4 linked regions of the Homo sapiens genome follow. Each later gene encodes a partner of the first gene's protein in a complex. Each region holds a gene or a part of one and is shown in the gene's direction. Other genes may lie near its edges.

Evidence for each region.
Region 2: the proteins of GPAA1 (region 1) and PIGT are in contact, whole or in part, in a cryo-EM structure (PDB 7W72), measured with the Homo sapiens proteins. Residues at the interface, in NP_003792.1 of Homo sapiens: Arg97 (codon at 4,934), Ser98 (codon at 4,937), Val99 (codon at 4,940), Gly100 (codon at 4,943), Glu102 (codon at 4,949), Tyr104 (codon at 4,955), Arg134 (codon at 5,258), Ala135 (codon at 5,261), Pro136 (codon at 5,264), Arg137 (codon at 5,267), Ala138 (codon at 5,270), Ala139 (codon at 5,273), Ser140 (codon at 5,276), Thr141 (codon at 5,279), Glu142 (codon at 5,282), Arg171 (codon at 5,369), Gly172 (codon at 5,372), Gln173 (codon at 5,452), Ile174 (codon at 5,455), Tyr199 (codon at 5,530), His200 (codon at 5,533), Asp201 (codon at 5,536), Val202 (codon at 5,539), Leu212 (codon at 5,662), Gln213 (codon at 5,665), Gly214 (codon at 5,668), Arg215 (codon at 5,671), Ala218 (codon at 5,680), Arg311 (codon at 6,041), Tyr312 (codon at 6,044); in NP_057021.2 of Homo sapiens: Gln91, Gly92, Phe93, Arg95, Arg97, Tyr98, Ser108, Phe211 (codon at 421), His212 (codon at 424), Thr213 (codon at 427), Ser214 (codon at 430), Asp247 (codon at 1,074), Phe249 (codon at 1,080), Ile250 (codon at 1,083), Arg340 (codon at 1,559), Gln355 (codon at 2,293), Tyr357 (codon at 2,299), Val358 (codon at 2,302), Ser359 (codon at 2,305), Gly360 (codon at 2,308), Tyr361 (codon at 2,311), Gly362 (codon at 2,314), Leu363 (codon at 2,317), Leu371 (codon at 2,341), Tyr373 (codon at 2,347), Lys441 (codon at 5,183), Asp459 (codon at 5,237), Pro460 (codon at 5,240), Asn461 (codon at 5,243), His462 (codon at 5,246).
Region 3: GPAA1 (region 1) and PIGS share a complex: the UniProt entries of both Homo sapiens proteins name them as parts of the GPI-anchor transamidase complex.
Region 4: the proteins of GPAA1 (region 1) and PIGU are in contact, whole or in part, in a cryo-EM structure (PDB 8IMX), measured with the Homo sapiens proteins. Residues at the interface, in NP_003792.1 of Homo sapiens: Gln245 (codon at 5,761), Leu310 (codon at 6,038), Arg311 (codon at 6,041), Arg313 (codon at 6,047), Phe358 (codon at 6,294), Leu359 (codon at 6,297), Ile371 (codon at 6,333), Ala389 (codon at 6,554), Leu390 (codon at 6,557), Trp393 (codon at 6,566), His397 (codon at 6,578), Leu500 (codon at 7,130), Ile504 (codon at 7,142), Leu508, Cys512, Leu515, Thr516; in NP_536724.1 of Homo sapiens: Tyr349, Ile355, Phe356, Cys360, Ile363, Val364, Leu367, Leu368, Val371, Leu372, Leu375, Ile377, Tyr378, Ala379, Gly380, Ser381, Phe386.

The regions. Positions count from the first base shown.
Region 1 is NC_000008.11:144,078,490-144,085,633, forward strand, and holds the start of GPAA1 (GPI-anchor transamidase component GPAA1), read left to right. Parts: upstream 1-4,144; 5' UTR 4,145-4,241; coding exon 4,242-4,315; intron 4,316-4,634; coding exon 4,635-4,814; intron 4,815-4,899; coding exon 4,900-5,011; intron 5,012-5,224; coding exon 5,225-5,372; intron 5,373-5,449; coding exon 5,450-5,551; intron 5,552-5,644; coding exon 5,645-5,841; intron 5,842-5,923; coding exon 5,924-6,120; intron 6,121-6,232; coding exon 6,233-6,386; intron 6,387-6,553; coding exon 6,554-6,649; intron 6,650-6,799; coding exon 6,800-6,990; intron 6,991-7,083; coding exon 7,084-7,144. Other genes in the region: EXOSC4 (exosome complex component RRP41), read left to right, coding at 240-410, 1,454-1,660, 1,753-2,112. UniProt on the Homo sapiens protein: Component of the glycosylphosphatidylinositol-anchor (GPI-anchor) transamidase (GPI-T) complex that catalyzes the formation of the linkage between a proprotein and a GPI-anchor and participates in GPI anchored protein biosynthesis. Binds GPI-anchor.
Region 2 is NC_000020.11:45,419,120-45,426,319, forward strand, and holds the end of PIGT (GPI-anchor transamidase component PIGT isoform 1 precursor), read left to right. Parts: intron 1-175; coding exon 176-276; intron 277-353; exon of another isoform or gene 354-384; coding exon 385-471; intron 472-1,016; coding exon 1,017-1,104; intron 1,105-1,212; coding exon 1,213-1,310; intron 1,311-1,408; coding exon 1,409-1,574; intron 1,575-2,263; coding exon 2,264-2,464; intron 2,465-5,096; coding exon 5,097-5,262; intron 5,263-5,376; coding exon 5,377-5,460; intron 5,461-6,390; exon of another isoform or gene 6,391-6,454; coding exon 6,455-6,707; 3' UTR 6,708-7,122; downstream 7,123-7,200. UniProt on the Homo sapiens protein: Component of the glycosylphosphatidylinositol-anchor (GPI-anchor) transamidase (GPI-T) complex that catalyzes the formation of the linkage between a proprotein and a GPI-anchor and participates in GPI anchored protein biosynthesis.
Region 3 is NC_000017.11:28,568,515-28,575,935, reverse strand, and holds the start of PIGS (GPI-anchor transamidase component PIGS), read left to right. Parts: upstream 1-4,411; 5' UTR 4,412-4,439; coding exon 4,440-4,473; intron 4,474-4,747; coding exon 4,748-4,887; intron 4,888-4,972; coding exon 4,973-5,084; intron 5,085-7,421. Other genes in the region: ALDOC (fructose-bisphosphate aldolase C), read left to right, coding at 404-515, 602-813, 930-984, 1,080-1,240, 1,359-1,442, 1,695-1,869, 2,002-2,201, 2,315-2,410. UniProt on the Homo sapiens protein: Component of the glycosylphosphatidylinositol-anchor (GPI-anchor) transamidase (GPI-T) complex that catalyzes the formation of the linkage between a proprotein and a GPI-anchor and participates in GPI anchored protein biosynthesis.
Region 4 is NC_000020.11:34,674,091-34,681,349, reverse strand, and holds the start of PIGU (GPI-anchor transamidase component PIGU), read left to right. Parts: upstream 1-4,257; 5' UTR 4,258-4,264; coding exon 4,265-4,394; intron 4,395-7,259. UniProt on the Homo sapiens protein: Component of the glycosylphosphatidylinositol-anchor (GPI-anchor) transamidase (GPI-T) complex that catalyzes the formation of the linkage between a proprotein and a GPI-anchor and participates in GPI anchored protein biosynthesis.

The DNA.
Region 1 (7,144 bases):
GATCCGGGGAGGTCGGGGCCGCGGTGAACTCCAGTTCACCAGGACAGGAAGTGACAGCGGAACGCCGGAAACCGCAGATCCACGGAGGTCAGGGCCGCGGAGAGCTGTAGTTCCCCGGAACCGGAAGTGATGGCGGACCTCCGGAAACCGTAGATTCCGGGCGGTCGGAGCCGCCGGGAGCTGTAGTTCTCCCGCGGCTCAGAGAAGTAGGCAGAGAGCGGACCTGGCGGCCGGGCAGCATGGCGGGGCTGGAGCTCTTGTCGGACCAGGGCTACCGGGTGGACGGGCGGCGCGCCGGGGAGCTGCGCAAGATCCAGGCGCGGATGGGCGTGTTCGCGCAGGCTGACGGCTCGGCCTACATTGAGCAGGGCAACACCAAGGCACTGGCTGTGGTCTACGGCCCGCACGAGGCGAGTGGGCGCGCGGGATGGGGAATCGTGTGGCCGTGGGAGCTGCGGGGCAGCCGGGCTGAGCGCTGGCTCGGGGACTTGAGGGGCAACGGCCGGCGCGCCTCAGTCTACACAGCCGATGCTCAGCACCGCATCTCACTCGGAGTAAACGCAAGTCCTTAGTGTGCTGCGCGGTGGTCCTGCCTTTCTCATCGGCCTCTGTCCCTGCGCCCTCCTTCCTCTTTGCGGCTCTTCAACGTGCTAGGCACTCCCCCACTCGCTCCCTCTCCTTTCAGCTCTACTCCGACGTCACTCCTTCCCAGACGACCTTATTATCCACGCGGTACTTCTCGCCCTACAATAAACCCTTTGTTTTGTGCACCTACAATCTCAAATGCCTATTTTGCTTAAGCATTTTCCCCTTTGTTTCCTCGCTGGAACATAAGCTTCCTAAAGAAAGGAACTTTACATAAAACTATCTGGTTTCATTACTGTGCTTCCAGCGCTGTAACTGCCTGGCCAGCGAAGGTATTGAAAGAGTGTTTGCTTAGCGCATGAGTGTGGGAGCTCTGCTTTCCAGGCGGAGGGAACCAGAAGGGCGAAGACCACGGTGGTGAAAACAAGCAAGGCACTTATGCAGAGCAGAAAGACTGCTGGTGGGGAAAGAGGGGATAACTCCAAATCAGGTTGAGGGTTCCCGGGGAGGTGAGGACTTAGGGTTTTGTAGAGTAGGGAAATGATTTGGGATCTTATTTCATATGTAATGTGAAACCTTTGTAAGGTAGTTAGGATTTGAGTGTGTAGGTGAGACAGAAGCAGCGTTGATGTTTGTAAACTTGGGTTGGCAGGGAATGGGGCAAGGATGGACACAAGGAAGCCAATTAAAAGGTGCCAGAGGGCGACACATGCAAGACAGAGAGCGCAAAACAGGGGGCTTTGTTTTGGAGGTAACGCAGTTGCCCCTTGCTGAGGCATTGAAAGTGGAGGGAGAGGCAGACCCACAGAGGACAGTGGAGTGTGAGCTGGAAGGAGTGGGCCTGGCTCATGTGTCTGTCCTCTTCCAGATCCGGGGCTCCCGGGCTCGAGCCCTGCCGGACAGGGCCCTAGTGAACTGTCAATATAGTTCAGCGACCTTCAGCACAGGTGAGCGCAAGCGACGGCCACATGGGGACCGTAAGTCCTGTGAGATGGGCCTGCAGCTCCGCCAGACTTTCGAAGCAGCCATCCTCACACAGCTGCACCCACGCTCCCAGATTGATATCTATGTGCAGGTGAGCCAGCTGCAGCCGTCAATCCAGGGAGGGAAGGGTGTGATGGGGTTGGGGAGGGAGTCTGATAGACTGACACCCTGGGTTCCCTGCAGGTGCTACAGGCAGATGGTGGGACCTATGCAGCTTGTGTGAATGCAGCCACGCTGGCAGTGCTGGATGCCGGGATACCCATGAGAGACTTTGTGTGTGCGTGCTCAGCTGGCTTCGTGGACGGCACAGCCCTGGCGGACCTCAGCCATGTGGAGGAAGCAGCTGGTGGCCCCCAGCTGGCCCTGGCCCTGCTGCCAGCCTCAGGACAGATTGCGCTGCTTGAGATGGATGCCCGGCTGCACGAGGACCACCTGGAGCGGGTGTTGGAGGCTGCTGCCCAGGCTGCCCGAGATGTGCACACCCTCTTAGATCGAGTGGTCCGGCAGCATGTGCGTGAGGCCTCTATCTTGCTGGGGGACTGACCACCCAGCCACCCATGTCCAGAATAAAACCCTCCTCTGCCCACACACCCCTCACTGTACGTTATCACCTAACAGCACTTCAGAGCCATGTGAAGGCTGGCAGAGCCTGGTCTGGTGCTGGCTCCTGGGGATGATTAGGGACCCTCGCCCACACATGAACGGCCTATCTCTGTGTAGCCTGATTCAAACCCTGAAGAGAACAGTGGATTAGGGGGTTTCTGTAGGGGAGGCCCTGGGTGGAAAAAGCAGCATGTCCCAGTAAGGACTCAAGGCAGCTGAGCAGGAGGCAGGGCCTGGCAAGATGAGCCAGGCCATTAGACTGAGGAATCTGTTACCCTTATTCCAGCACATCGGGGGCCCTGAGCAAAGGGCTGAGGAAGAACTCAGCTGGCTCTGGGTACCCACCCTAGGGATGTGGGGGCCATGTCCCACAACCTCTGGACTATGGTTTGGAGCCCCCTGGGCTTTTCCTGCTGCTTACCTTGGGCTCTGAAAGTACAACAGCCAGGCATGGTGGCTCACGCCTGTAATCCCAGAGCTTTGGGAGGCTGAGGCAGGCGGATTGCTTCAGGTCAGGAGTTTGAGACCAGCCTGGCCAACATGGCGAAACCCCGTCTCTACTAAAAATACAAAATTAGCTGGGAGTGGTGGCACATGCCTGTAATCCAAGCTACTCAGGAGGCTGAGACAGGAGAATCTCTTGAACCTGGGAGGCGGAGGTTGCAGTGAGCCGAGATTGTGCCACTGCACTCCAGCCTGGGCGACAGAGCAAGACTCCATCTAAAAAAAAATAAAAGTACAAAAATTACCTGTTCTCATGGATCACTTGAGGTCAGGAGTTCGAGACCAGCCTGGCCAATGTGGTAAAACCCCATCTCTATTAAAGACACAAAAATTAGTGTGGTGGCAGGCACCTGTAATCCCAGCTACTAGGGAGGCTGGGGCAGGAGAATCACTTGAACCAGGAGTTGAAGGTTGCAGTGAGCCAAGATTACACCACTGCACTCCAGCCTGGGTGACAGAGCAAGACTCTGTCTCAAAAAAAAAACAAAAAAAAACTTGTTCTCACATGGAGTCTTCAGCTTTGACCCTTCTCTCTGCCCACCACTATTTTGTTTGTTGAGACATGGTCTTGCTCTGTGCTCAGGCTGGAGTGCAGTGGTGTGATCACGGCTCACTGCAGTCTGGATCTCCCAGGCTCAAGTGATCCTCCCACTTTAGCCTCCTGAGCTGAGACTACAGGCATGCCCCACTCACCTGGCTAATTTAAAAGGAATTTTTTTGTGTGTACAGACTGGGTCTCATTTCGTTGTCCAGGCTGATCTCAAAGGATCCACCCACCTCACCTTCCCAAAGTGCACCCTCTTGAGCAAACTCCCCCTTCATTCACCTCTGGCCCACCGAGCCCCGACTACCAGTCCCTGCAGTCTGGACCCTGGGACTGCTTCTCCCCTAATATTCCACGGATCTCCTGGCCCGGACAGTGACAGTATGATCCCCCACTTTATAATGCACACACCCCAGCTCCAGTGAAGCCCGTTTTGGCCAGTAGTGCCATCAGCATCTTCTCTGCAGTCATCTGACTCTGAAAACCTCGGTGCTGGGCTCACGCTGTGACTCCACTGGGACGTCCTGAGTCATTGGCAGTCTCGCTTGGCATCCATTCTCTGACCGCCGCCGGCTTTCCACCCACCTGCCCGGCTCATCACCTCTGACTCCTGCGGGCCTTCCAGCCGGCGCTATCTCGCAGCCCCCGACCAGCTCGGCCTGCTGTCGGGCATCTCTGCTGTCCTCCGGCTGTAGGGCTACCTGCCTCCCTCCCGGGGGGTGCACTGCGAGTCCGACTCTAGTGGGGGCAGCGCCTAGCGGACTCCCAAACCCGCTCAGGTCCTGCCGGCCTCACCGGCACCGCCCACCCTCCAGCCGGCCGCGGCTCTGCGCTTGCGCGCCGGCAGCACACAGTGTTAGGGGCGCGCCCTCTGCTCTGGACATGCGCGCCGTCGCGAGCGTCTCTGGGACCGGAAGTGCGGGCGAGCGCGGGTCCCCGGGTCTGACAGGAGCAGCCTGTGGGCACCGCGGCGGTAGTTGGAGGCGGGAGAGGGTCCGTAGCCGCGCCGCCCTGCCCCGCCATGGGCCTCCTGTCGGACCCGGTTCGCCGGCGCGCGCTCGCCCGCCTAGTGCTGCGCCTCAACGCGCCGTTGTGGTGAGGACAGGGCCCGGGGAGGCGGGGACCCGAGGGCCCTGGGCTCGCGCCGGCGGCCCCATGCGCGGTCCCCATCGAGGGCCGGGGCCGCTCCAGCTGCTCGCGCCCCTCCGGCTGCTCGCGCCCTTCCGCTCCTGCCCTCTGGAAGCACTGAGGGTATCAGGCCCAGGCTTAGGGCTCGGGTCCGGCGTCCCGATGCAGGACTCCGGGTTTAGGTCTCCCAGACCCGCGCGATCGACCCCGGGTGCGGAGGTTGTGGCCTCGGGTCGGCGTCTGAGGACCCGCTGACGCTCCGGTGCCCCTCCGTCCTCTCTCACAGCGTGCTGAGCTACGTGGCGGGCATCGCCTGGTTCTTGGCGCTGGTTTTCCCGCCGCTGACCCAGCGCACTTACATGTCGGAGAACGCCATGGGCTCCACCATGGTGGAGGAGCAGTTTGCGGGCGGAGACCGTGCCCGGGCTTTTGCCCGGGACTTCGCCGCCCACCGCAAGAAGTCGGGGTGAGCGGCAGAGCAGGGCGTATGGGGCGAGCAGTGGTGGCTAAGGCCGGGGAGCTCTGCTCAGAGGCTCCCTTCGTGTCTGCAGGGCTCTGCCAGTGGCCTGGCTTGAACGGACGATGCGGTCAGTAGGGCTGGAGGTCTACACGCAGAGTTTCTCCCGGAAACTGCCCTTCCCAGATGAGACCCACGAGCGCTATGTACTGGGGGAGTGGGGTGTGCCTGGGCCCAGAAAGCACCTTGGAGGGAGGGGTCTGGGCTGGGTATCACCTTGCGGGGGTGTCATGGGGCCAGGAAGCTCAGTGGGAGGGAAATCCCTGGTGGGCACTGGAGGGCTAGGAAAGTTGTGGGGGGCCCTTCAGCCCCCTACCACAAAGTTACACTGAGGCTCCCCCCACCGATGCTGCATACAGATGGTGTCGGGCACCAACGTGTACGGCATCCTGCGGGCCCCGCGTGCTGCCAGCACCGAGTCGCTTGTGCTCACCGTGCCCTGTGGCTCTGACTCTACCAACAGCCAGGCTGTGGGGCTGCTGCTGGCACTGGCTGCCCACTTCCGGGGTGAGTCTCAGGGCTGCTGGCCGTGGAGGGGTTTGGTCAGTGCCCCAGACCCTGCTGATCCTGCTTCTGGCCTCCAGGGCAGATTTATTGGGCCAAAGATATCGTCTTCCTGGTAACAGAACATGACCTTCTGGGCACTGAGGCTTGGCTTGAAGCCTACCACGATGTCAATGTCACTGGTAGGTTCTCTTGTCCTGCCTGCCCTGGTCCCCCTCTCAGGGTCACTGTCCTCACCACGTCCTCCATTAGCACTCATTCACTTGCTCCTACAGGCATGCAGTCGTCTCCCCTGCAGGGCCGAGCTGGGGCCATTCAGGCAGCCGTGGCCCTGGAGCTGAGCAGTGATGTGGTCACCAGCCTCGATGTGGCCGTGGAGGGGCTTAACGGGCAGCTGCCCAACCTTGACCTGCTCAATCTCTTCCAGACCTTCTGCCAGAAAGGGGGCCTGTTGTGCACGCTTCAGGGCAAGGTGGGGCTGCCTGCCTGCCTGAGGGCTGAAGGGCACAGGGTCTGTGGGAGGGGCTGTCTCATCCTGTCCTGCACCTCTAAAGCTGCAGCCCGAGGACTGGACATCATTGGATGGACCGCTGCAGGGCCTGCAGACACTGCTGCTCATGGTTCTGCGGCAGGCCTCCGGCCGCCCCCACGGCTCCCATGGCCTCTTCCTGCGCTACCGTGTGGAGGCCCTAACCCTGCGTGGCATCAATAGCTTCCGCCAGTACAAGTATGACCTGGTGGCAGTGGGCAAGTAAGTAGTCTCTGGTCCCCCCTTTCCATGCCCAGGATGGGGTCTAGCTGGAGCGGAGTGGGGGATGGCCTGGTGGCTCTGGCCAGCCGTGAACCTGCCCCACACCTGACAGGGCTTTGGAGGGCATGTTCCGCAAGCTCAACCACCTCCTGGAGCGCCTGCACCAGTCCTTCTTCCTCTACTTGCTCCCCGGCCTCTCCCGCTTCGTCTCCATCGGCCTCTACATGCCCGCTGTCGGCTTCTTGCTCCTGGTCCTTGGTCTCAAGATATCCTCTGCCCCTTGCCATCTACCTGTGACCAGCCTCCAGTCTCCTCAACTCTAGGCTGGGGAGAGTCTTCCATCCTGATGGGGGGTGGGGTACGGGGGTGAGCCCTGGGTCCCCCTCTGGGCAGATCCCGTTACACCTCTTGTTGGGGTCCTTGATTGGGCTACGCTCTGGAACTGTGGATGCAGCTGCATGAGGCTGGAATGGGCCTTGAGGAGCCCGGGGGTGCCCCTGGCCCCAGTGTACCCCTTCCCCCATCACAGGTGATGGCACCCCCTTCTGTTGTTGGAATGGGCTTCTGGGGTCTGACTGGTGTTTAGTGTTGCAACTTAGCCTCAGCTGGTGGGATGGTGGTGGTCTTTGGGGATCCCCTGGCCCCAGGGTCCATCTCCAAGAGCCTGTGTGCCCTGCAGGGTGTGGGGCTGGCCTCGCTCGTGGCACCTCTGCTGATCTCACAGGCCATGGGACTGGCCCTCTATGTCCTGCCAGTGCTGGGCCAACACGTTGCCACCCAGCACTTCCCAGTGGCAGAGGCTGAGGCTGTGGTGCTGACACTGCTGGCGATTTATGCAGCTGGCCTGGCCCTGCCCCACAATACCCACCGGTAAGAGGCTGGGCTGGTTGTTGGGGGCAGGGGTAGAGGTCCCCTGGACATGCAGACAGCTTGTGGGTTGCCTCTGAGTCCTTTGTCTTACAGGGTGGTAAGCACACAGGCCCCAGACAGGGGCTGGATGGCACTGAAGCTGGTAGCCCTGATC
Region 2 (7,200 bases), on another chromosome or scaffold:
ATCTCTGCATGCCTTTTCCCAAGGAGAGAAGGGAGTCCTACTCCCAGTTGGGACTGTCCAGACTGTGGTGCTAGAGGTGGTGTGGGGAGCAGGAGGGTCATTCCCATCTCTGGAATGTGGATCCCGAGGGGTCAGAGCCCAAGGCCCACCCCAGACAGACCTCTGTCTCCCTCAGACACTGACCACTACTTTCTGCGCTATGCTGTGCTGCCGCGGGAGGTGGTCTGCACCGAAAACCTCACCCCCTGGAAGAAGCTCTTGCCCTGTAGTTCCAAGGTGAGGCCGCAGAGCCTGGCAGCCGGGGGCGGGGGGTGTATAGAGAACCTGCGCCCCATGCCAAGTGCTCCATACAGGGCTTCTCTTATCTCTTTCCATCTCCTCCAGGCAGGCCTCTCTGTGCTGCTGAAGGCAGATCGCTTGTTCCACACCAGCTACCACTCCCAGGCAGTGCATATCCGCCCTGTTTGCAGAGTAAGTCATGGGGAGTAGAGGAAGCTGCCATCCAGGGGCTCAGAGAAGGTACATGTAAAGCATGTGGTCAGTGTCTGGCTCAGGCTGAGTGAGTACTGAGTGGTAGATGTGATGACGGTTATTCAGGGCATTGGCCAAGCACCAAGAAAACAGTGGTTGCCTAGCAAGCACTGAATAAATATTTGTCATGGAAAATAGTGGTTCAGAACAATAGCTATGCGGGTGCAATTGCTAGCTCAGTCACTTGCCAGCTGGCGTAACCTTGGGTGAATCATTTCATTCCCCTGAGCTTGGTTTCCCACCCTGCCACATGACATTGATAGTAGAATCCACTCCTAGGGTTGTTGTGATAGTTTATCAAACTGATGCACATACAGCTGTCAGCACGGGGTCTGGCACGAGGTCAAGTGCTCAGGAGTGGGTGGTAGCAAATCGATGGATGTGAAGATACATAGATGAGGGATTGAGTCTGAGTAGGAGTCTTTTTGGGGGCTGTGTGGTGAGAGTGATACCCCCTCACTGCTGCCATCTGGCCCTTGTGATAGAATGCACGCTGTACTAGCATCTCCTGGGAGCTGAGGCAGACCCTGTCAGTTGTATTTGATGCCTTCATCACGGGGCAGGGAAAGAAAGGTAAGTTACCTTGGCAACTCATCTGTACCCACCCATGCCAGCCCTGCCTTATCTATGTGGACTAGGCCTAGGCCTGGCCCCTGCTCAGCCCTGCGCTCTGTTTCTCAGACTGGTCCCTCTTCCGGATGTTCTCCCGAACCCTCACGGAGCCCTGCCCCCTGGCTTCAGAGAGCCGAGTCTATGTGGACATCACCACCTACAACCAGGTAACAAGGTCTCCAGCCACACACACAAACACACCGCTGGTCCCCAGGACCAGCCTACCCTCTCTGCTTGCTTCTTAGCCCTGCCTTTGTGTCCCCAGGACAACGAGACATTAGAGGTGCACCCACCCCCGACCACTACATATCAGGACGTCATCCTAGGCACTCGGAAGACCTATGCCATCTATGACTTGCTTGACACCGCCATGATCAACAACTCTCGAAACCTCAACATCCAGCTCAAGTGGAAGAGACCCCCAGAGAATGGTGAGTGGGTGGTTGGTTGGACTGCTGGGTTGCAACGGCTACAGAGAAAAGACTCACAATCCCACGTCTTTGCCGTTAGATGATTGGGTTGTATTTAGACCAGATTTCCAGAGTCATATGCTGCTGACTGTAGCTATTCCAAGCTCTACGATTTTGGGTAGGTTCCTAAACTCCCCAAGCTTCAGCATCCACATCTGAAAAATAGAGTATACTTAGCAAATTGGATGAGATGATGTGAAAAATGGAGTTAGTTCATGCATTTGCTTAATCAACCAAATACTTTTGAATTCATACTAAGTGCCAGGCATAGAGTGTTGAATAAGACAGAGGACACTGCACTCAAGAAATATAAGTCTACTAGCTAGGGCAGGTGTCAGTTAATTAATTACAGTTGTGTTCAGTTCCCTTACCAAGGGAAAGAGCAGAATATCCTGAGAGGACCTGGATTGGGTTCGAAGGGGGCACGGTGTTCGTCACGTAAGCACTTCAATACTAGCAACCTATTGTCATCATCGCTTGTTGGCTGGGGAAGACAGGGATGATTCCAGAACCCAGATTGCCCAGTTTCAGTGGCAGGGCTGTTCCCCATCTACTCACTGGCTTGGGACTCTGAACATGGCCTGGGCAGGTGGGGTGGGGAGTGATTCTTACCTTTGGCAGCTGTTAACTGTTGATATTTCTTTACACAGAGGCCCCCCCAGTGCCCTTCCTGCATGCCCAGCGGTACGTGAGTGGCTATGGGCTGCAGAAGGGGGAGCTGAGCACACTGCTGTACAACACCCACCCATACCGGGCCTTCCCGGTGCTGCTGCTGGACACCGTACCCTGGTATCTGCGGCTGTATGTGCACACCCTCACCATCACCTCCAAGGGCAAGGAGAACAAACCAAGTGAGGACCTGAGTCCTGAACCAGGCCCCCAGCCCGCCCTCTCATGTCCTCTCCAGGTCCCCCAAACTCTCATTTCCCAGGGTAGTTCCTGAAGTACCTCTGAAAAGCTACACAGGCATAAAGAGTAAGGAATAGTTTCTCAAAACTGGAACGGGAGCCTCACTGTGCCAGGTTCAGAAGTAATTTATAAAACAGCAATAATTAAAACACATAATACTGGTGATTCTTAATAGGACTGTACAAGGACAGTAGCTTCCTTTTTCACTTACTTTTGCCTCCTTTCTGGAGCATTGGGTTTTGTGATGATTCATAGACTCTTTAAGGTAGGGAAAGGGTTTGGCAACGTTAGGCTTTTGAAGCTAGGAAGATAGCAGAGCTGGAGTAGATGGTGTTTTGCTTCCTTGGGAGGGGTAAAGAGGTACAGTTAATTAAATTTTTTTATTTCTATTTTTATTAAAATTTATTTTTATTTTCTATTATTTTTCTAAGGAGAAGATAATATTAGTGCTTCCTATTAGGTGCCAGGCATAGCACTAAAGCACTTGCCTTTCTTTGGTGTAGGGGGAGACTAGTAGTAAAGTAAAAGACCTCTGAGGAAGAGGTTGTACCATATCCCAAACGGCCAAACTTAAAAACCTTTCAGTACTTTAGTTGATTCCTATATTTTCAAACATACGGTGAATAGTTTCACTTATTTTCAGCACCATTATTTGTACCACCTTCAAAATCTCTATTTCAGACATCCTAACTGCATATTCTATAGGTTTTTCTGTTATTATTCTTTTAAATCTTCTCCTTTGGAAAATTTCAAACCCAAACCCAAACAGAATAGTGTAATAATCCCCTGTACACACCCTGCAGCCTTTTTTTTTTTTTTTTAAGAGACAGACTGTTGCTCTGTCAGCTATGCCGGAGTGCAGTGGCATGATCATGGCTCATTGCAGTCTCAGACTGCTCGGCTCAAGCAATCCTCCTACCTCCGCTTCCCTAGGACTACAGGCATGAACCGCCATGCCTTTAATTTTTTCACAGAGGCAGGGTCTTGTTATGTTGCACAGGCTGGTCTCAAACTCCTGGCCTCAAGCGATTCTCCTGCCTCAGTCTCCTAAAGTGCTGGGATTATAGGTGTAAGCCGCTGCCTGCTGGCATATCTTAAAGCAAATCTTAGACATTGCATCAATTAACCTTTAAATACTTTAAGGATTTTTAAAAATGTAACCGTATCATTACCACTTCTGTTTTCCCCTGTGGTCTTAAAAATGTCTTTTTATAATTGGTTTGTTTAAATTGGGATAAACAAGGTTCTCACATTGCATTTGCTTTATACTAAGTTCCTCTCTTGGGTGGGCACAGTGGTGCACACCTGTAATCTCAGCACTTTGGGAGGCCAACACAGAAGGACCACTTGAGTCCAGGAGTTCGAAACCAGCCTGGACAACATTGTGAGGCTCCCCCTACCTATACAAAAAAAATTTTTTTTTTTTTTTTTTTTTTTTTTTGAGACGGATCCTCACTCTGTCACCCAGGCTGGAGTGCAGTGGCGCGATCTTAGCTCACTGCAACCTCCACCTCCCGGGTTCAAGCGATTCTCCTGCCTCCACCTCCCGAGTAGCTGGGACTACAGGCGCGTGCCACCACGCCTGGCTAATTTTTTCTGTTTTTAGTAGAGATGCGGTTTCACTGTGTTAGCCAGGGTGGTCTCGATCTTCTGACCTTGTGATCTGCCCGCCTTGGCCTCCCAAAGTGCTGGGATTAAAATAAATTGTTTTTAATTAGCTGGGGGTGGTGTTGCACGCCTGTAGTCCCAGCTACTCAAGAGGCTGAGGTGGGAGGATCACTTGAACCCAGGAGGTCAAGGCTATAGTGAGCCATGATCATACTATTGCACTTCAGCATGGGCGACAGTGTGAGACCCTGTCACGAAAAAAAAAAAAGTTTCTTTTTCTTTAAAATTACTAGACTATTCTTAGAGCAGTTTTAGGTTTACAGAAAAACTGAGCACAAAGCACAGAGTTCCCATATACTCCCTGTCTCCACACCCAGAATGTCCCTTATTATAAATGTCTTGTCTTTGGTGTGGTACTCTTCAGTCTCTCTTCATCTGTAGCAGTGCCCATGCCTTTTTTTTTTTTTTTTAATGTCATTTATTTGTTGAAGAAACTGGGTCATTTGTTGTGTAGAATGTTCCACATTCTGGGTTTGTCCTTGTGCTAGTGTTTAACACACCCCTCCTCTCCTATATTTCTTGTGTGTTGGTGGTTAGATTTAGAAACCTGATTAGATTCATGTCCCACATTTTTGGCAAGAAAAATTCCCAGGTGGTTCTGTGAACTTCTTCTTGCGTCACATCAGGCACTTGGTGTCTGGTGCCCCAGTTGTAGTGATGTGAAGATTGATTAGCCATCTGCAGCACTCCTAACAACCTCTCTTGATCGCATCCTGGGATCACTGCCCTGGAAACATCCTCTCCCTTTTCTTAGCCCCTGCTTTCTTCCCTTGCCTGCCTGGCTTCTATGCTCCCAAGCCCATCTTCTAGGCACCCAGATTGAGGCTCCATGGCAAGCAGCAGGGACAGGGGCAGCAGGTAGCCTGACCCCAGGAAAGAGATGTGGGTGACCTTGCATGTCTCCAGGTTACATCCACTACCAGCCTGCCCAGGACCGGCTGCAACCCCACCTCCTGGAGATGCTGATTCAGCTGCCGGCCAACTCAGTCACCAAGGTTTCCATCCAGTTTGAGCGGGCGCTGCTGAAGTGGACCGAGTACACGCCAGATCCTAACCATGGCTTCTATGTCAGGTGGGCTCCACCCCCACAGGCCACCTCTCATCCCCCTGACCTACCCTTTCTGCTGCTTACCCCTTGATAGGGCAGCCAGATGGGAACACGGGCCATCTCTCTGCTTCTCTGTAGCCCATCTGTCCTCAGCGCCCTTGTGCCCAGCATGGTAGCAGCCAAGCCAGTGGACTGGGAAGAGAGTCCCCTCTTCAACAGCCTGTAAGTGTGACCACACTCACTGATAACACATCCTCAGCTGCCTGCTGGGCCTTAACACAGGTGACCAGGCTCCTGCAGGGGAGTTCAGGGTAGATGTTACATCTTCCAAAGAGATGTGTAGATTTAATTCAATCCTAATAAAAATCCTGGCAGTCTGTGGAATTTGTGAAGACTTTATAAAATGATTTTAAAGTGCTTCTAGAAGAATACTTTTACTTACAGCCTACATTTACTTCTTGATGCTCTTAAATATTTAATCAAGCACTTATCAAATGCCAAGTGCTTCTGAGAGCACTGAGTGTGCAAGATTAAACAAAACAGACTTGGCCCTGGCCTCCCTTTGCTTACAGTCTAGAAGGAAGATTCTGGTCTAGAGAGTAATGGGGTTAGAGGTTGGGTAGGAATTGATTTACTGGGTTATCTAGGAAGGCTTCATTTAGGAGGTGGCATTTAGGCTGAAACCAGGCTAAGAAAGAAGCAACCAAGCAAAGGCGGGGCCCCTTTCCTCCACCTCAACACCAGGCGTCTCTCTTTCTTTCCTTTCTCTCTCTTTCTTTCTTTCTCTTTCTTTCTTTCTTTCTTTCTTTCTTTCTTTCTTTCTTTCTTTCTTTCTTTCTTTCTTTCTTTCTCTTTCTTTCTTTCTTATTTATTTTTTATTTTACTTTAAGTTCTGGGATACATGTGCAGAACATACAGGTTTGTTACATAGGTATATATGTGCCACGGTGGTTTGCCGTACCCATCAACCCATCATCTAGGTTTTAAGCCCCGCATGCATTAGGTATTTGTCCTAATGCTCTCCCTCCCCTTGCCCCCCGCCCGCCGCTCCCCTTTATCAGGTTTAGAGATTGAGCTATGCCTTCTGTTGAAAGGTTTTGAGCCTAAGAGAACATTGGAAACACTGTGTTGCATTGCCCAATACTGCCGGAATGAGGATGGGGTGAGATGGGGAGGAGCAGCCAGTCCTGTCTCACCGCTCTTCCCCTGACCCCAGGTTCCCAGTCTCTGATGGCTCTAACTACTTTGTGCGGCTCTACACGGAGCCGCTGCTGGTGAACCTGCCGACACCGGACTTCAGCATGCCCTACAACGTGATCTGCCTCACGTGCACTGTGGTGGCCGTGTGCTATGGCTCCTTCTACAATCTCCTCACCCGAACCTTCCACATCGAGGAGCCCCGCACAGGTGGCCTGGCCAAGCGGCTGGCCAACCTTATCCGGCGCGCCCGAGGTGTCCCCCCACTCTGATTCTTGCCCTTTCCAGCAGCTGCAGCTGCCGTTTCTCTCTGGGGAGGGGAGCCCAAGGGCTGTTTCTGCCACTTGCTCTCCTCAGAGTTGGCTTTTGAACCAAAGTGCCCTGGACCAGGTCAGGGCCTACAGCTGTGTTGTCCAGTACAGGAGCCACGAGCCAAATGTGGCATTTGAATTTGAATTAACTTAGAAATTCATTTCCTCACCTGTAGTGGCCACCTCTATATTGAGGTGCTCAATAAGCAAAAGTGGTCGGTGGCTGCTGTATTGGACAGCACAGAAAAAGATTTCCATCACCACAGAAAGGTCGGCTGGCAGCACTGGCCAAGGTGATGGGGTGTGCTACACAGTGTATGTCACTGTGTAGTGGATGGAGTTTACTGTTTGTGGAATAAAAACGGCTGTTTCCGTGGTTCTTTGCCTCTTGTCCTTGAGTCCTGGGAAGAGCTGGGGACTGGGGATTGTTTGCTGAGTGCCTGAACAGGACCTC
Region 3 (7,421 bases), on another chromosome or scaffold:
GAGGATGAGAAAAGGGAAGCTGGAAAGGCCAGGACTTTTGCCTACCTCAACAAGGGACCAAGTTCAGTGAAAGAAGGGTTGGCATCCTTGATTGGGCAGCAGATTTATCAGAAGAGCTGTGGCTTCAGGGCTGCTCACCTCCCCACCCCCACCCTGCATCTTTCCCCAGGGCTGGGAAGGATGCCTACCAGGGACAAAAGGAGATGTGGGAACTGGAGCCCTAAGCTTGCTAGCTGTCAGAAGGACTGGTGCCACTTGATGCCCAGGACTCATGCCAAGGACTGCTGCCCTGTTCCCAGCCCCTTGCTTGATGGGGAGGCCATTTGGCCCATCTGGCCAGGAGAGGCAGCAGAGGGTGAGGTCTGGCTTTTTTATCTTGTCTCCACTCCAGGGAGCTGTCACCATGCCTCACTCGTACCCAGCCCTTTCTGCTGAGCAGAAGAAGGAGTTGTCTGACATTGCCCTGCGGATTGTAGCCCCGGGCAAAGGCATTCTGGCTGCGGATGAGTCTGTAGGTAAGTGGACATCTGTAGCCAGGTAGGGTACAGGTGGCTAGGGGACCCTGGGGATGTTCTCACTGCCTCTCTTTGTTTGCCCCTAGGCAGCATGGCCAAGCGGCTGAGCCAAATTGGGGTGGAAAACACAGAGGAGAACCGCCGGCTGTACCGCCAGGTCCTGTTCAGTGCTGATGACCGTGTGAAAAAGTGCATTGGAGGCGTCATTTTCTTCCATGAGACCCTCTACCAGAAAGATGATAATGGTGTTCCCTTCGTCCGAACCATCCAGGATAAGGGCATCGTCGTGGGCATCAAGGTGCAGCCCCTGGCCCTGCTCTGAATGGAAGCTGGGTGTGAAAATAAGCTTGTGTAGGAGGGGTAGCAAGGAGAATCCTGCCTGGATTCAACCCTCTGCTTGTACTTCCTCTACAGGTTGACAAGGGTGTGGTGCCTCTAGCTGGGACTGATGGAGAAACCACCACTCAAGGTATAGGATGGGTGGGCTTGAGGACCAAAGAGGTGTTAGATAGTTGATGCTGGTAAAAGAGGGGCAGAGTAATGAGGTTGGCACTGTGCTTGCAGGGCTGGATGGGCTCTCAGAACGCTGTGCCCAATACAAGAAGGATGGTGCTGACTTTGCCAAGTGGCGCTGTGTGCTGAAAATCAGTGAGCGTACACCCTCTGCACTTGCCATTCTGGAGAACGCCAACGTGCTGGCCCGTTATGCCAGTATCTGCCAGCAGGTGTGTGTGTTGGGAGGGTGGTGAGCTAGGTGCCCTGTATGCCTGGTGGGGAGAGAGTCACAAGGCTTTCTTCATCTCCCCTACTGCCCCTCCCAAGCATCTCTGCTCTTGCCTGCAGAATGGCATTGTGCCTATTGTGGAACCTGAAATATTGCCTGATGGAGACCACGACCTCAAACGTTGTCAGTATGTTACAGAGAAGGTGAGTCCACACCTGGGCACACAAACATACTGCAGGGACAGCTCGGCAGGAGTGTCTGTTCCCCAGAACCCCCAGCTTAGATCCAGGCACACTTTCCCCTAGCACTTTTTCACTTCATCCCGGCACAGGCCTGTGATCTGAGCCTGTACTGAGCCCTCACAGTCTGTGCCCATCTACCCCTACATAGGGAGCATCGAGCAGTAACCAGTGGGGGCCCAGACCCTTAGTAAACCTCCTCTAATCCCCACCCAGGTCTTGGCTGCTGTGTACAAGGCCCTGAGTGACCATCATGTATACCTGGAGGGGACCCTGCTCAAGCCCAACATGGTGACCCCGGGCCATGCCTGTCCCATCAAGTATACCCCAGAGGAGATTGCCATGGCAACTGTCACTGCCCTGCGTCGCACTGTGCCCCCAGCTGTCCCAGGTACTACCCAGCTCCCTAACCTGCTCCTATCCCTAAGGCCCATCTTCAGGTCCTTCTTGTGGCCTTCAGGGGTTCCCTATCCTGGAAAAATTGGGAGTGACCAGTCAGTTTGTCTTCTCTCCTCCACACTAGGAGTGACCTTCCTGTCTGGGGGTCAGAGCGAAGAAGAGGCATCATTCAACCTCAATGCCATCAACCGCTGCCCCCTTCCCCGACCCTGGGCGCTTACCTTCTCCTATGGGCGTGCCCTGCAAGCCTCTGCACTCAATGCCTGGCGAGGGCAACGGGACAATGCTGGGGCTGCCACTGAGGAGTTCATCAAGCGGGCTGAGGTTGGGAGCTACAGGTGGTGGTGGGTGGGGGCAGCACCCAGAGGCTATAGCCTGGGCAGGGCTTGGCACCTGTGGGCTGGCTCAGCCTGCTTACTCCACGCTCCCTTTTGCAGGTGAATGGGCTTGCAGCCCAGGGCAAGTATGAAGGCAGTGGAGAAGATGGTGGAGCAGCAGCACAGTCACTCTACATTGCCAACCATGCCTACTGAGTATCCACTCCATACCACAGCCCTTGGCCCAGCCATCTGCACCCACTTTTGCTTGTAGTCATGGCCAGGGCCAAATAGCTATGCAGAGCAGAGATGCCTTCACCTGGCACCAACTTGTCTTCCTTTCTCTCTTCCCTTCCCCTCTCTCATTGCTGCACCTGGGACCATAGGATGGGAGGATAGGGAGCCCCTCATGACTGAGGGCAGAAGAAATTGCTAGAAGTCAGAACAGGATGGCTGGGTCTCCCCCTACCTCTTCCAGCTCCCACAATTTTCCCATGATGAGGTAGCTTCTCCCTGGGCTCTCCTTCTTGCCTGCCCTGTCTCCTGGGATCAGAGGGTAGTACAGAAGCCCTGACTCATGCCTTGAGTACATACCATACAGCAAATAAATGGTAGCAAAACATTCTACTTTGCCTGTCTGTTTTACACATCAAATTCCCACCTCCCAGTTTCTGATCTCTGCTAATTCTATCTCTGGGCCCTCTGACTCTGGAGGTGGAGAGGGTGGGATTTGAGTCTTACTGGGCTTCAAGTTATGGAGGAAGGGCACATGCAGTCACCATCCCCAGCTCAGGCTCTTGCTCTCTTGATGTCCAAGTCTGGAGTGGGGCAATGAGGAAGACTGCAAGTCTTCTAGGGACTGCCACATCAGTGGCACTGGGCTGCAGCTACAGAAGTATGGAGTGAGGCCAAACTGGCAACTCCTGAAGGCAGATTTGTGCAAGGCTCAAAGCAGGGAGGCAGCAAGACAGGCTGGGATAAGAGTGGGTGGGAGTCTCTCCCATCTCGCAGTGTTAAGCCCAGCTGGGACCTGGTACCTTCCACTAGGGTGAGCCACACCAGTAAGGGCAAGCGAGCACCTGGACTCCCGCCCAAAGAGGAAAACCAAGGCTCTGCGGGCTGCCAGGGCTGAGCAGGGCATCTAGGAGGTTGCCAAGGGCTATGGCCCATTTTCATTTGGGGTAGAAGTGGGCACAAAGGGAGCCAATTGGAGGGTCTGGGTAAGGACAGCTCTGGTGAGGCCTGATGCTGAACTTTAACCACTGGGCTGGGTTGTGAGGTAGGCTGAGAACCTGGGTCTAAGCAGATAAAAAGAAGAGATAACAAGCTGCGTGTGTTCTGTGTCAACTGGGGAGGCTACAAATGCTCCACCCTGTGTGGCCTGACTTTATAATAACAAAAATAGCTTGCACATAGCACCAACCCTGTTCTAATCACTTTATATGTACTGACACATTTCATACAACTCTATAAAGTAGGTACTATTACTATCATCCCTATTTTAATAGAGAAAACAGGCACAGATAGGCACAGAACGATCTTCTCACGATCACTCACCTAATAAGTGATGAAGCCAGGATTTGAACCGCAGTGATCAGCATCTAGAGTCTGGGCTCATGACTTTTCAAGATTTTTAAGTGAAGTATTCTGAGTTTTCCAAGTTGGAAATGAATTAAAACGTATTTTAAAATAGCGAGAGAGCCAATTGTGCTAAAACATACTAGCTTGCTACCTCCGTGTTTGAGGCTTTGAGGAGAGGGCACCCTAAGAGGAGTTCTACGATAAGGATAATAAGACCGTGACAGTTGACGTTGAGGGCTTTCCGTGTGCCAGGCTCCTTACAAGAACGGCCTCATTTATGTAAATATCTCCATTTTCAGATGAGCCTCGGAGCTGCCTGTAGTTGCCCAGCTAGTATTTAAGGACTGCAGAGGTTGCGCTCTTGATTGCGGGGCTAGAAGTGTGTTCTACAGGGAAGCGGGGAACTTCGTTCCAGCAGCGCCGAAACCCGCACGGCCCCTAGGCTGTCCCTCCGCGCCCGGGTGACTTCCTTTCAGATCCCCAGCGAAGCTCCCAGCGGAGCCCTCCCACCCCTCGCCCGCTTGCTCCCGTCTGCGGGTCTGGAGTAGCGCTCGCGATTGGCCCCGATCACCGCCGCGGTCCTGCCCCCTCGTTGCAGAGATTCCGATTGGGTGAGGCTCACGAAGCTCTGCCCCCACGGTGGCCGGAGCAGCCGGAAGCTAGCATGGCGGCCGCCGGGGCTGCGGCTACACACCTAGGTGCGGTGGGCTTCGGGTGGGGGGCCTGCAGCTAGCTGATGGCAAGGGAGGAATAGCAGGGGTGGGGATTGTGGTGTGCGAGAGGTCCCGCGGACGGGGGGCTCGGGGGTCTCTTCAGACGAGATTCCCTTCAGGCTTGGGCCGGGTCCCTTCGCACGGAGATCCCAATGAACGCGGGCCCCTGGAGGCCGGTGGTTGGGGCTTCTCCGCGTCGGGGATGGGGCCGGTACCCTAGCCCGTTTCCAGCGCCTCAGTCGGTTCCCCATGCCCTCAGAGGTGGCCCGGGGCAAGCGCGCCGCCCTCTTCTTCGCTGCGGTGGCCATCGTGCTGGGGCTACCGCTCTGGTGGAAGACCACGGAGACCTACCGGGCCTCGTTGCCTTACTCCCAGATCAGTGGCCTGAATGCCCTTCAGGTGAGACTGCTGTGCGGGAGGGTCGGGGGACAGCCCCCCCGGCAAGGTGGAGACTCAGTGACGGCCCTGATGCTCCTTCCTGTAGCTCCGCCTCATGGTGCCTGTCACTGTCGTGTTTACGCGGGAGTCAGTGCCCCTGGACGACCAGGAGAAGCTGCCCTTCACCGTTGTGCATGAAAGAGAGATTCCTCTGAAATGTGAGTTACTGGGGATCAGGGCTGCTTTTCGCCTCTGAGCTCAGTTCAGAGCTGAGTTGGGTGGGAGGAGCGGGGGTGTACCATAAACGCAGTTAAAAACTTACTGTTGAAAGACCTCTGAATGAACAGTGTGTTTGGTCAGAAAAAAACTACTTTCAAATTCACAGTCACTAAATAGCAATTTTACTCGTAAGACAGGCTACCTAATCGGAAGCAGTTGATGCCCATCAGGGTATAGGGGAAGAGGTGGGATATAGTGGAAAGAACACAGAGTTTGAAATTAAATTGGATTTGCATATAGGCCCTATTTAGTTTGTTTGTTTATTTATTTATTATATTTTGAGACGGAGCTTCGCTCTGTCGCCCAGGCTGGAGTGCAGTGGCGCCATCTTGGCTCACTGCAACCTCTGCCTCCTGGGTTCAAGCGATTCTTCTGCACCAGCCACCCGAGTAGCTGGGATTACAGGCGCGCGACACTACGCCCAGCTAATTTTTGTATTTTTAGTAGAGACGGGGTTATGCCATGTTGGCCATGCTGCTCTCGAACTCCTGACTTCAGGTGATCCGCATGCCTCAGCCTCCCAAAGTGTTGGGATTACAGGCGTGAGCCACCGCGCCCAGCCCCTATTCAGTTTAACATTAAACACTTTACTGGGGTACTTTTTTTTAGGTACCAAGAATTTAGGAATGAATAAGAAATTGATAATGGTTTCAAGATGTTCATAGGTAGGGGAGAAAGATAAAATAAATTACAGTAGAAGTATACAAGAAACAGAGATTGCACTTAGTAAAGAGTATTAACCATCTGGGAGGAAAGAAAGGCAGAGAAAGTTTTGAGAGATGTAATTCTTAAGTCGGATTTTTAAAGGATGTGTAGGAATTCAGGTTAAGTGGGAAAAGGAGGGAGAGAATTTCAGGCAAAGTTAATAGCATGAGACAGTATAAGGATAGCTGATAGTTGTTGCTCGCTGTGTGCCAGAAACTAGGTGAAGCATTTTATATGTGTTGCCTCATTTAATCCTTTCTAATGATATGATCCCCATTTTATAAATGAAGAAACTGAGCCTTAGAGAATTTAACTTGTGCAAGGTCACACAGCTAGTAAGAGATGGAACTGGGATTTAAATCCAGGCCTGACTGATTCCAGTGTTCAAGCTTTTAACCAACAAACTATACTCCTGTGTGAAAGTGTGGCGGGGTGAATCAGCATATTGGGGGACCTATGAGCAGTTTTGCCTTACTGGAATGTGTAGTGAAAGACTGGGAATGACTGGAGATTTGGGCTGAGTCTAGAGCATGAGGCATCTGTGTGCCATTTACTTTTTTAGTTCTTTAGCCTTGGTGAAAACTTTTCTTTTCTTTTTTTTTTTTTTTTTTGAGAAAGGGTCTCTCTTTGTTGCCCAGGCTGGAGTATGGTGGCACGATCAGGGCCCACTGCAGCCTTGACCTATTGGGCTCAAGCGATCCTCCCATCTCAGCCCACCTGCCTTAATAGCTGGGACTACAGCCGCACACCATCACACCCAGCTGATTTGTTTTGGTATTTTTAGTAGAGATAGGGTTTCGCCATGTTGCCCAGGCTGGTCTCGAGCTCCTGGGCTCAAGTGATCAGCCTCCCAAAGTGCTGGGATTACAAGTGTGAGCCACCGCACCCGGCTGGTTAAAACATTTTTTTAAAAAAATGATATTTCGTATGGTTCAGCCTCTGTACACACACAAACTTCTGGTTTTCTTTCTTTTTTTTTTTTTTTTTTGAGATGGAGTTTCGCTCTTGTTGCCCAGGCTGGAGCGCAATGGCACGATTTTGGCTCACTGCAACCTCTGCCTCCTGGGTTCAAACGATTCTTCTGGCTCAGCCTCTGAAGTAGCTGGGATTACAGGCGCCTGCCACCACGCCCAGCTAATTTTTTGCATTTTTAGTAGATACGGGGTTTCACCATGTTGGCTAGGCTGGTCTCAAACTCCTGACCTCCAGTGATCCACCAGCCTCGGCCTCCCAAAGTGCTGGGATTACAGGCGTGAGCCACCATGCCCAGCCAAACTTCTTGTTTTCTAAACAAAAATTGGACTATCCCTCACAAGTTAGTTTGAAATTTGATTGTTTTCAGTTTATCATGGATTTCTTCATATTTGATAACACAGTGTTCAGTAATATGGGTATACTGTAAACGTATAGTATAGGCAACACGTATAAAGGGTGACCAAGAGTATAGAATCTGGGATCAGAGAGCTGGAATTCAAGCCTTATTCTGCCACTTATTTGTGTAAATTTGAGTAAGGTTGTTAACTTCTCTAAACCTTGGTTTCCTCATCTGTTAGACGGAAATAGTAATAGCG
Region 4 (7,259 bases), on another chromosome or scaffold:
GATGGTCTCAAACTCCTGACCTCAAGTGATCTGCCCACCTCGGCCTCCCAAAGTGCTGGGATTACAGACATGAGCCACCGTGCCCAGCAGTTTTCATTTCTTGATGGTGTCCTTTGGAACACAGAAGTTTTTAATTTTGACAAAGCTCAATTTACTTATTTCTCCTTTTGTTGCCTGTGCTTTTGGTGTTGTTATCTAAGAAACCATTGCCTAATTAAAGGTCATAAAAGTTTACTCCTATGTTTTCTTTTATGAGTTTTATAATTCTAGCTTCTGTATTTGGGTCTTGTGTTTTTTTATTGAGAACCACTAGTTGTATTCATACTTCATGCACACTCATTTTGAGAACCACTGGTTTGGGTCACATCTGTCTACAATGGCTAATCACTGTTTTTCCCAAAGACAATCCTCACCCTAAGATAAATTTTTAAGTCATCTGTTAGAATGATGTAAATAATATAACAGCTAAGTAACCTTTACTGAGCACTGGGTATGTGCTAAGCATTTTACATTGTATAACCTTGCTCAATATTCACTATGAGGTTAGTGTTACAATTACTTCCACTTTTTATGATGTAATACACTTCACTGTAAGATGATGCAACACATATATCTCCTTTTATGTAAAAGGGGATACAAAAACCCACATCTTTAAGAAGGAAGGCTGTGCAGACTAAATAAGCTCATGTGTGTTAAGCATATGGTACACTACTTGGCACACAGCAGGGGCTCAAAGGATGAGTGCCCCTCTAATTTCTTCATGATCCCCTCCCCCAAAGGAGACCCTACCCCTTTCACTGGTCCAGAAAGCTATCAGCCCCAGGGTTTATTTTTGCATTCTTTTAGAATCCCACTCCCATTTTTTTCTTTTTCTTTTTTCTTTTTTTTTGAGACAGTCTTGCTCTGTCGCCCAGGCTGGAGTGCAGTGGTGCAATCTCGGCTCACTGCAACCGCCGATCCTCGGGTCGAAGTGACTCTCCTGTCTCAGCCTCCCAAGTAGCTGGGATTACAGGTGCCCGCCACCTTGCCCAGCTAAATTTTTTGTATTTTTAGTAGAGACGGGGTTTCACCATGTTGGCCAGGCTGGTCTCGAACTCCTGACCTCAAGTGATCTGCCTGCCTCGGCCTCCCAAAGTGCTGAGATTACAGGTGTGAGCCACTGCGCCCGGCCATTTTTTTTCTTTTTTCTTTTTTTTTTTTTTTGAGGCAAGGTCTTGCTTTGTCGTACAGGCCTGAGAGCAGCGGCGTGATCTTGGCTCGCTGCAGCTTCAACCTCCCAGGCTCAAGTGATTCTCCCACCTCAGCCTTCCCAGTAGCTGAGACTACAGGCATGCGCCACCATGCCTGGGTAATTCTTATGTTTTCTGTAGAGACAGGTTTCACCATGTTGCCCAGGCTGGTCTCAAACTCCTGGGCTCAAGCAATCCTCCCGCCATGGCCTCTCAAAGTGCTGAGATTACAGGCGTGAGCCACTGCGCCTGGCCCACTCCCCCTTTTCTTTCTCTCATTAAGGTTTGTGATTTTTTTTTTTTTTTTTTGAGACGGAGTCTTGCTCTGTCGCCCAGGCTGGAGTTATGGTTTGTGATTTTACTTATGTTATTCTTTAACTATTTTATCTCTTCAACTGCTTTCCAAGTTACATAAGGGCAAAGGCAGATGGTGCCATTTTGTCACTGCAATATTCCCCAACACCCAATAGAGGGCTTGTGGGAATATAGAGATGTTTGAAAAATGTACACCTGTTCACATCATTTCTGGTTTAAAATTCTCCAATGGCATATGGATTGCACTTTGAATAAAGCCCAAATTCTCAAGCATGGCCAATAGGTCCCTACCTGATTGCCCCCCGTCTCTCCATCCACAGCTTCTTCTATTCTCTCCACTTGAGCCATACTTGTTTTCTTTCTGATCCTCAAACATACCTTGCTCTTTCCCCACTCAGTCCGTTCCTTCTGCTTGGAGGCTCTGATTAATTTCTCATCCTTTAGGTCTCAGCTCAAATATCACCTCTTTCTAGAGTCTTCCCTGATCACCTTGTCTAGTGTTACCACCCTTATTATTACACCAGCAGTTATTCTCAGTCATACACTGTTTCGTTTTCTTTCTTCTCTCTCTTTCTTTTTTTGAGACAGAGTCTGGCTCTGTCGCCCAGGCTGGAGTGCAATGGCGCTATCTTGGCTCGCTGTAGCCTCCGCCTCCCAGGTTCAAGTGATTCTCTTGCCTCAGCCTCCTGAGTAGCTGGGACTGCAGGCACAGGCCACCATGCCTGGCTAATTTTTGTAATTTTAATAGAGACGAGGTTTCACCATGTTGGGCAGGCTGGTTTCAAACTCCTGACCTCAAGTGATCCGGCTGCTTCGGCCTTCCAAAGTGCTGGGATTACAGGCGTGAGCCACTGCGTCCAGCCTGTTTCCTTTTCTTCACAAATATGAAATTTCCTTGCACATTTAATATTATTATTGCTAATATTTAAGCACTTACTATACATTAATTAATGAAGTGTGCTGCTTAATGCTTATCAATGGGCTCTCCAAACCCCAAACCCCTGATTTGTAGTGTTTGCTGATTCCTGTGGTGTAAACACTCGCATTGGGAGGGATTTTCAATCTATCAACCTGAGGAAACTGAACACCACCATTTGGGAAGAGAAAGAGATAGTATTTGCTGTACTGATACAGCGGTGGTAAATAATCTCAAAAGCACATATAAAAAAAAGTGTAGTAAAATAATTAGAAAGTGACGTGTTGAATATGTATTCCGTTGTTTTCAATATAAGTTATTTAACTGTAGGTTTATATGTCTTAATTTTCAAAAATGCCTGTGTTTAAAAGCGACTGGCAAAATTTCTAAGCCTTCCGGCCAGGCACGATGACACAAGCCTGTAATCCCAGCACTTTGGGAGGCCGAGGCAGGCAGGTGGATCGCCTGAAGTCTGGAGTTCGAGACCAGCCTGACCAACATAGAGAAACCCTGTCTCTACTAAAATTACAAAAAATTAGCCGGGCGTGATGGCGCATGCATGTAATCCCAGCTACTCGGGAGGCTGAGGCAGGAGAATCGCTTGAACCTGGGAGTCGGAGGTTGCAGTGAGCTGAGATCGCGCCATTGCACTCCAACCCGGGCAATAAGAGCGAAACTCCGTTTCCAAAACAAAAAAAAAATTTCTAAGCCTTCCTCAACTGTCCCTAGTTAGCCTATAATCAGCACATTTTTCAGCACACAAGGGTTAAGCGACTTGTTGAACTAGCTAATAAATCAGTCTACTACTCCAAAACGCATCTGTAGAACCTAACATAGTGCCTGGAAAATAGTTGGCGTTTAACAAACAACTGCCAGAATAAATTTTTTAAAAAATACACATTTAACACTCTTTAAAAACATAAAAGGTACCAGCCTGGGCAACATGGCGAAACCCCGTCTCTACTAAAAGTACAAAAACTTAGCCGGGTGTGGTGGCGCGCACCTGTGGTCCCAGCTACTCTGGAGCCCGGGAGGTCCAGGCTGCAGTGAGCTGAGATTGCGCCACTGCACTCCAGCCTGGGCGACGGCACTGAGACCCTGTCTCAAAAACAAAAAACATAAACATTTTGGGCAGGGTGCGGTGGCTCACGCCTGTAATCCCAGCATTTTGGGAAGCCGAGGCGGGCGGATCACCTGAGGTCAGGAGTTCGAGACCAACCTGGCCAACATGGTGAAACCCCATCTCTACTAAAAATACAAAAAAAAAAAAAAAAAAAAAATAGCCGCGCGTGGTGGTGGGCGCCTGTCATCCCAGCTACCCAGGAGGCGGAAGTTGCAGTGAGCCAAGATCGCGCCACTGCACTCCAGCCGGACGACAGAGCGAGACTCCGTCTCAAAAAAAATAAAAATAAAAATAAAAATAAACATTTTGGCATTGAAAACATACACGCAAGAGTGAATTTAACATCTGTTTAAAAGTCTCTCACAATCCCAGGAAGGCGACTACTTCCGCTTCTACTTTCAGCAGCGTTTCAGCCCCGCTATAGCGGCGCGGCTTCACAAAACACCTGCGATCGTAGAAGGTTTCGCCCCACCTTCTGCATACGCAGCTTGAGGCGCCCGCTTTCCGTCGCTCCGGCCCGCCTCGCCGCAAGGCTTTCTGGGAGCCGTAGTCCCCACGTCTGGCCTCTCCGGCGCCAGCGGCAGCGCGCGCCCACCCGCGGAACTACAGAGCGTGGCGCACAGCGCGCGAGGCTCCTCCGCCTCGCCTTCCCTCCCCGCCCGCGCGCCCGCCCCAGTTATCATGGCGGCTCCCTTGGTCCTGGTGCTGGTGGTGGCTGTGACAGTGCGGGCGGCCTTGTTCCGCTCCAGTCTGGCCGAGTTCATTTCCGAGCGGGTGGAGGTGGTGTCCCCACTGAGCTCTTGGAAGAGAGGTGAGGCCACTGGCTCGAGCAGACTGTCAGGCCCCACCTGCCCTCCCGCGGCCTCTGTGAATGGGAGGCGGGGGCAGTGACCGCCAGCGCGCGGTTCCTAGAGAACTAACTGACTGTCTCGTGGGGTTCTTGGAGAGGGCGGGGCCTGAGGGCGGGGCTGGTGAGGGGAGGGGGCGTGGGGACCGGGGCGTGGGGACAGTGTCGTGAGGTTTGGGCCCTGGGGGCCGGACCACCTAGTGGTGGGGATCTGAGGGGGCGTGTCCCATTCAGTGTCCTGAGCCGAGGAGTGTGGTCTGTGGGAAGGGTTGGAATAAGAGGAGGAGGTGCTTGTGGAGCGCGGCTTGCAGAGGAGTTTGGGATTTGGGGCGGGATCGCCAGGGGTGCTCCCTGGGATAAAAGGTTATGTGTGAGGGGGTCCGGGATGAGGGGACCAATTTTGCTTAAGCGAGGAGAGTGTGCGTGTGCTTTAGACGTCTCTTCTCAGTCTGGGACTTGCAGGGCAATTTTTGTTACTGTTCCTTACTAAGTTCTTCACCGAACATTGTTTTATACTAACGCCTACAGCGAGAAAGCGAAGTTGGCCTGAAGTAGCTGCACAGGCTAGTGAGGGAGACAAATCGTTATAATAATTCATGAAAAGTATACTTTATGTGTCCACCCAGTTCCTTCCTTAGTATTCTGACCCTGAATAAACTATCCCCTACCTTTCCAGTTTTCCAGAATGTGGGATTTGAGCTGACTCTTGAAGGATGTAGGGTTTTGAAAGGGAGATTAGAGAAAAGGAGAGTTCCAGGTAGCAGAAAGTAAATAGGATGAAGAAACGTTCAAGGATGTGAAATGTCCAAAGCAGGGGAGTAATGGGGTGGAAGCTAGGTTTAGGCCAGAGTTTGATGATTAAAAAAAAACAAACAACTTTTTTTTTTTTTTTTTTACTGAAGTACAGTATACATACAATGCATATTAAGTAAGTGTAGAGTTCAATGAATTTTTAAAAACTGTATTCACTCATGTAGCCAGCACCTAGTTCAAGAAACAGTATCAGCACCCCAGAAGTCCCCTTTGTGTCCTTTAAATGCTAAAGTTTTTTTGTTTTTGTTTTTGTTTTTTGTTTAGAGACAGGGTCTTTCTATGTTGCCCAGGCTGGTCTGGAACTCCTGGACTCAAGCAGTCTCACTTGGCCTCCCAAAGTGCTGGGATTTCAGGCGTGAGCCATGGCACCTGGCCAAGGCTAACGTTTTGATGTTATCCCATAGAATGTTGGTATGGGGAACGGCATAATGAATGGGTGTTTTATGAATAGAGTTAAGGTTTCTAAAAATGGTAACATATACCTTTTCTCATTTAGTCCTCACATTTATTTCTATGTGATAGATGGTGTTATTTTCCCCCTTTTACAGATGAGGGAACTGAAATTTAGAGAAGTTAATTTGCCCAGGTTTCCTAGTTGGGGAATGGTAATAAAGATAGTAATAATTCATGTCTGAGATTGTAAGAGCTTGGATTTGTTACCTCTGCGTATTATTTTTCTGTTGAAATGAATCGAAGCCATTTGGTTCCTGTTTTCTTCTGGATAACTGAAAACCTGAGGCAGTATTAGGCCCTTCTTCCTCTACACCCTACTAAGAGCATTTCTTATCTCATAATTACCTGTTTATATCCGGTTTTTCCACATTTTCTCTCTCTCTCTTTTTTTTTTTTTTTTTTTTTGAGATGGAGTTTCACTCTCATTGCCCTAGCTGGAGTGCAATGGTGCGATCTCGGCTCACCATAACCTCCGCCCCCTGGGTTCAAGCAATTCTTCTGCCTCAGCCTCCTGGGCAGCTGGGATTACAGGCATGCACCACCATGCCTGGCTAATTTTGTATTTTTAGTAGAGACAGGGGTTCTCCATGTTGGTCAGGCTGGTCTTGAACTCCCGACCTCAGGTGATCTGCCTTCCTCGGCCTCCCAAAGTGCTGGGATTACAGGTGTGAGCCGCCATGCCTGGCCTCTTTTTTTTTTTTTTTTTCTTCAAGAGACAGGGTCTCACTCTGACACTCAGGCTGGAGTGCAGTGATAATGGGTCACTGCAGCCTTGACCTCTCGGGCTCAGGACATCCTCCCTCCTCAGCCTCCCAAGTAGTTGGTAGCTGGGACTACAGGCATGTACCACCAACCCTACTTGTTATTATTATTATTTTTTTGTATTTTTTGTAGAGATGGGGTTTCACCATGTTGCTTAGGCTGGTCTCAAACTCCTGGGCTCAAGTGATCCGCCCATCTGGGTCTCTCAAAGTGCTGGGATTACAGGCATAAGCTACCACACCTGGCCTTTTCCACTATATTATGAGCTCCTTGAAGGATTCTGTTTTATTCATTCCTGAATTCTTTTATGTCTGGCATACAGTAGGTGTGTAGTTACTGTTGAATAAATGTGGAAGAGAAGAAAGCATAGGATCTGGTTACTTACAGGAGGTTACTTACAGGATGGACAGGTGAAGGATCCAAAGATGAGACAGTGTTGTTTGGTAATTAAGAGTGCAGGGTCTGGAATCTCAGAAAAGGTTTGACTCTTTCTCTAGTTCTGCAACTTATAAGCTGTATGAATTCTTTTTTTTTTTGAGACAGAATTTTGCTCTTGTTGCCCAGGCTGGAGTGCAATGGCGCGATCTCGGCTCACTGCAACCTCCGCCTCCCAGGTTCAGGCTGTTATCTCGTCTCAGCCTCTTGGGTAGCTGGGATTACAGGTGCCCGCCACCATGCCCAGCTAATTTTTGTATTTTTAGTAGAGATAAGTTTCACCATGTTGGCTAGTCTGGTCTTAAACTCCTGACCTCAGGTGAGCCGCCCGCCTTGACCTGTGAAAGTGCTGGGATTACAGGCATG